2 separate regions of the Homo sapiens genome follow, and region 1 is linked to region 2. The links come from fine-mapping of genetic effects on gene expression. A gene starts in region 2. The other region holds a variant in brackets. All regions are shown on one strand. Distances are between the middles of the regions.

Region 1 (2,919 bases), 24 kb after region 2:
AGGTAATATTTCTTTTTATGTTCCTTTTTAGCACAACCAATTGCTTGGAGAGAGAAACCATTCATTCAGTTAACATTTAATGAGTATCTGTTGTATACAGAATGTTTTTCTAGGTAGTCAAACAACACTCTGGGGTTGATTTAAGATGGGCTTTTAGCAACAAACAGTAGAGCTAGGTCAAGTCGATGATATTTTTAGCATGTGGTAGATTTAGCTAATTGAAATTTTCTTGCACTTCTTATTGTTGTGTTAATTATCCTTCATTTATTCTATAATCACTTTTTGAACTTTTAATCAGACACCTATTAAAGGTGCATCTGCTGAATTCTAAAATGTTATGTGACTGGATTTTACATATGTTAATTACTTGGAAGAATATAATTTACGGCTCCTCCCTTCCTTCCTTCCTTCCTTCCTTCCTTCCTTCCTTCCTTCCTTCCTTCCTTCCTTCCTTCCTTTCTTTCACAGGGTCTCACTCTTTCTCCCATGCTGGAATGTGGTGATGCCATCTCGGCTCCCTGCAACCTCTGTCTCCTGTGCTCAAGTGACCCTCCAGCCTCAGCCCCACAAGTAGCTGGGAATACAGGCATGAGCCACCATGCCCAGCTAACTTTTGTATTTTTTGTAGAGAGAGGGTTTCACCATGTTGCCCAGGCTGGTCTGAAACTCCTGAGCTTAAGCAATACACCCACCTCGGCCTCCCAAAGTGCTAGGATTACAGGTGTGAGCTACTGCACCTGGCATTTACAGTTTCTATATGCGCTTATTAATACAACTTTGAAAATTTATTTTCCCCATTTTTCTCTGCAGGTATTTGAAAGTGCAGTAGATCCTGGAGCTGTAGTAGACCTTTTGGAAAGTAGGTACTCTGAAAAACAAAACAAAAAACCAAAAGACTATTGTGTGTAATTCACAGATTCAAAACTCTGCTCTTTTCTAAACTGTGATATGTTCATGTTTGATGAATATTTATTTCAAGACAGCCTACGTAAAATTTGAATCACATTTTTGATTCTGTTACATACCCTTTTCTATATATAGATGGGCTTGGCTGGGCACGGTGGCTCACATCTGTAATCCCAGCACTTTGGGAGGCCGAGGCGGGTGAATCCCTTGAGGTCAGGAGTTTGAGACCAGCCTGGTCAGCATGGTGAAACCCCATCTCTACTAAAAATACAACAAAATTAGCCGGATGTGGTGGCACATGCCTGTAGTCCCAGCTACCTGGGAGGCTGAGGCAGGAGAATCGCTTAAACCTGGGAGGCGGAGGTTACAGTGAGCCGAAATCGTGCCATTGCACTCCAGACTGGGTGGCAGAGCAAGACTCCATCTCAAAAAAAAAAACAACAAAAAAACAAAAAAACTAAATATAGATGGGCTTTGATGGATAGTATGATTCTGTTTGGTTGTTTATTTATAAAAATTGTTTTTATGTGTTTCATTAAATTAGAATATTTTTATCACCACAAAAAGCGGCCCTATGCCCATTAGCAATCACTCCCTATTCCCCACCAGCCCTCCTAGCTATAGGTAACCACTAATCTTTCCGTCTGTATAGATTTGCTTATTCTGGATA[T/C]TTCATATGAATGAGATTATACAACATGTGCTCCTTTGTGATTGAATTCTTAGTGTAATGTTTTCAAGATTCATCCATATTATAGCATGTGCCAGAACTTAATTTTTTGTATGGCCAAATAGTATTCTGTTGGATGAATATATCACATTTTGTTTTTCTAGTCATCAATTGATGGACATTTGGGTTGTTTCCACTTTTAGGCTATGATGAATAATGATGCTGTGAATATTTGTGTATAAGTTTTTGTGTGAACATATGTTTTAATGCCTCTTGGGTATACCTAGGAGTGAAATTGCTGGGTCATATTGATACAGGAGTGCTGGGAAGAGAAGAGAGTGGTACCTTTAAATGATATGGACCAGGGAAGGGAAGTGCTCGGTACAGGAAGGGTGTGGTCCCTGGCTAGGGCTCCATCCCCACAGACCTAGGTGAGGACAGGCACTCCTGCTTTCCCGCCCAAATGTTGCATTTCCCAAGACCATCCTGGCCCACCATGCCCCCATCCTGTGCCTGTAACAGACGGAGACCCTAGCAAGGCAGAGACAGAAGCGGCTGGACATCGAGAGGAGTACATTGGCACTGGCAGAACGACACGGAGTTTGGCCGGGGCAGTTGGAAGAGAGCCGGGGCTGCCGAGTGGCCCAACTCCAGGGGAAAACCATCTCCCTGCTGGCTCCCCCATCTGCTGAAAGCTACCCCCACTCAATAAAACCTCACACTCATTCTCCAAGCCCATGTGTGATCCTATTCTTCCAGTACACCAAGGCAAGAAACCCGGGGGTACAGAAAGCCCTCTGTCCTTGCGACATGGTAGAGGGTCTAATTGAGCTAACACAAGCCACCTATAGACGGCAAACTGTAAAACACACCCACTGGGGCTTCACAAGCTGTAAACATTCACCCCTAGATAGTGCTATGGGGTCGGAACCCCACAGCCTGCCCCCGTCTGTCTGCTCCTCTAGAGGTTTGAGCAGCGGAGCACTGAAGAAGCGAGCCACACCCCCATCGCACGTCCTGAGAGGGGGACAAAGGAGCTTTTCCCATTTCAATGTGGTAACTGTATGTTTAACCTTTTAAAGAAGTTTCACATTATTTACCAAAGCAGCTGAATCATTTTACATCCCACCAGCAATGTATGAGGGTTCCATTTTCCCACATCCTGGCCGACACTTGTTATTGTCTGTCATTTTGATTGGTAGTCATCTTTGTGGGTGTGAAGTGGTATCTCGTCATTGTTTTGATTTGCATTTCCCTGATGGCTAATGATATTGAACACATTTTCATGAGATATTTGGCCATTTGTGTATTTTCTTTGGGGGAAATGTCTATTCAGATCCTTTGCC
Region 2 (2,919 bases):
CTTCCAAAACACACACGGATTCGGAGAAAAAAACAGGACAAGGTGATGCGAGTATGTAAGTATCCCCTAAGATAGGTCCCTGAAAAATCCTTAATAGTATATCACATTTGGATACGTTTCAGTCGCAGGAAGGCAGGAATGCTGGATTGAAAACACAATACCAGGAACCTAAGAGAAGTCTGAAGGAAAACACAAGTATATGCGTATATATTTTCACTGGAGAATGACGTGAAGCAAAACTAAAAAACAAAACAGTAAGGCAAAGATGGTCACGCGAATGGGAGAGGTGTACGCCAGCGTCAAAAGCGAGATTTAAAGAATTTACTCAGTTGTCAACATCGGTGAAAATCGCATGTGAAATCTTTGTCAGGACTCAGTGTGATGCTGAACTACAATCATTCACTGTTCCTAGCAACTGTGCACAAGTATGCTAGAGCCTTTAACAGAATAAAGTGCTTGGGGAAAACCTCTCACAAGAGGACAAAGGGTCAATGTTACAGCATGAGCCGCCCCAAATCTGAGTGCTGTCAGGAAGGGGAGATGGAGGAAGGTATTCCAAGAGTGAACAGGAATCAGCCAAGGCGAAAGAAAACATGTGCGTGGAGGTGGAGGTTGGTAATATATGGCCACCCCGTCTGCCCTCCGAAGATGCCATAAAAGGGGTGGGATGGCATCAGGCGTCAGGTCCCAGGTCCCCGGCCCCTGGCAGTGAGGTGGGCGTAGAAAAAGGCGTAGAAGAGGGTCTGGGAGACGCGGCATTCCAGGGGTTTGGCGACAGCACCACTCCATCCCTCCGCAGAACGCAGGCCCCTTCTCACCTGGGCGCCGCCGCCTGGCAGCTGCGGGCAGCGGGGAGAACTGGGGAACACGTCGAAGTCACTCTCTTCCTCAGCCTCACCCTCGGCCCGAGGGAGGCTCCAGGGTCCCGGAGGCGGCCACGGTTGTTCCATGTCCGGCTGCTCCGGGTCCTACAACCGCCCTTGGCCCTACAACTGCCACTGCCAACAGACTTGGCGTGAATGGAACCTGCTGCGCCGAGCCAGAAGCCCAGCCGGGGGTCCGGGCCGTTACCCAGAATCCCTCTACTGGCCGCGACGCCGCTGCACACCCGGCGACAGCCTGGGCCTCGCCACCGGCGGACGGCGGAAGAAATAGTCGGCGCGGTGCGTCACTTCCGGTTGGGGCGGGGCTGTGGAGGCGCGTCCCGGGCCCTTTGCGTGTAGTGGGTGGATCTGCAATTGTATTCCTGTTTCAAGCCCCGTTTTCTTGCAGCTCTTCGGCACTGCAAACCTAACCGCTAATGGCGCTGTGGGTGGAGAAACGTTTGTTAGGTAGCGTTATATATTGTTATCTGGTGTTCCCTATACCGAAAACGGCGGGTCCTGGCCGCCGGGAGGTACTCAGACCAGGTGTGCACTTTACATGTTGCTTAAAAATTGCAACTCATTCCTTTACATTGACATTTAAACCAGTGATTCTAAGGCAGAGTTGGGGCGGAGGGAGGAGAATTTTGAACAAGCGGAGCCAATTTTCGTCTCATTTCTAATTACAGGCAACAACAGAATTCTGCGAAACTTGGTTGGTTGGAGGAGCACACCAAAAATAAAGTACCGGAGCCGGCACGGCTTCAAAAAAATTAGGATCAGTACCGCTAGTAGCGAACGCATAAGAAGGGCTTCCTGTATGCCTGCGTATCTTGTTTAAGCCTAAAGATATGTACTCTCTTTATCCTCTTTTTTTGAGACGAGGAAGTAGACCCAGCATGCCCGAGATCACACATTTTACAAGGAAGAAGTAGGATCCAGACCCAGGGAGTTTAACTTCAAAACTTGAACGTTTAACAATCAGGTCTTGCTGCCCTACTCATAAAGAGACCCAAATAAAAACAACATGACGCCATTTTTTTCCATGTGTTTAGACTGGCAAACTTGTGAAGTCGCTTAATACCAAATGTGTACCAAGATGTAAGGAAATGATGTGAGAATGTCATTAGTATAACCTTTTAGGAGGAGTAATTTGACAATATGAGAGGCTTGAGCGGATTGATTCAGCAATTTCACCACTAAGAAAGTATGCAACAATTATTTTTGCACCAATATCCAAAGATTTACTACAAAGATTTCTGGCAGCAATTTTTGTGTGTGTGTGGCAAGAAAAAAAAAAGCATTCTAATTGTCCATCGATAGAGGAACTTAAAGTATGGAATATTAATACAATGGCATATTACCCTTTTTAAAAAAAGTAAATTGTATCTGAATATGCTGATATATAAATACCTCCAAAAGGTATTGAGTTTTAAACAAAGCAACTTGCAGAATTAAACATATGCGTACGTATACAGAGAGAGAAGAGAGAGGGATGGTATTTGTTTGCGTCCGTGTGTGTGTGTGTGTGTGTGTGTGTGTGTGTGTGTGTTTGCGCAGAACATTCCTGGAGGATATGCAAGAAACTGTTAATGATTACCTCTGGTGGGTGAGCCTAGGAAGGAAAGCTTCTGAGGATCTTTACTTTCCACATTTAGCTTCCCTGTACTGTGCTGTTTGAATATTTTTCCAATGAATGTATACTATAATTATAGTATTATAACAGTACAAGATTATAACAGTACAAGATTACTATAAAATTAATTACAAATAAAAGCTGAGAATCACTTTTGCACCTAAACCTTTTGAATTTAGGGGTGAAAGTCACAGGAGAGACTGGAAAGGGAGGAAGAAAAGAAAAACATTTTTCTCTTTGCTTCCATGAAGCCACAAAGTGCTTTGAATAGTGCCTGGCATAAAGTAAGCCCTATATAAACGCTAATGCTGTTAGTTTTTCTCCTACCTCTTTCACTACTTCTCCTCAGTCTTCTTCCCTTCTAGCTGACCTCTAACTTTAGAGTTCCTCATATTTTGGCCAGTGAGGAGAATCCTGTTT

The links. PIP is the estimated chance that this variant, and not a neighbour inherited with it, causes the effect. A credible set is the group of variants that fine-mapping cannot tell apart.
Region 1: its variant is the best candidate, but not a certain one, in a credible set for the expression of CDC37L1-DT in esophagus mucosa (GTEx, PIP 0.63).

What each region holds. Positions count from the first base shown.
Region 1 is chr9:4,653,981-4,656,899 of GRCh38, reverse strand. It overlaps SPATA6L (spermatogenesis associated 6 like), which reads left to right. Exons shown (of 12, transcript NM_001353486.2): 3 at 811-859. Among named protein-coding and RNA genes, the nearest start is that of PLPP6, 6.9 kb to the left of the region's middle. The variant T/C (reference allele first, on the strand shown) is at 1,577.
Region 2 is chr9:4,677,799-4,680,717 of GRCh38, reverse strand. It overlaps CDC37L1-DT (CDC37L1 divergent transcript), which reads left to right and starts at 1,238. Exons shown (of 2, transcript NR_121598.1): 1 at 1,238-1,331. CDC37L1 (cell division cycle 37 like 1, HSP90 cochaperone) reads right to left here and starts at 1,149. Exons shown (of 7, transcript NM_017913.4): 1 at 819-1,149. The coding sequence starts at 950. RefSeq lists an enhancer at 926-1,015.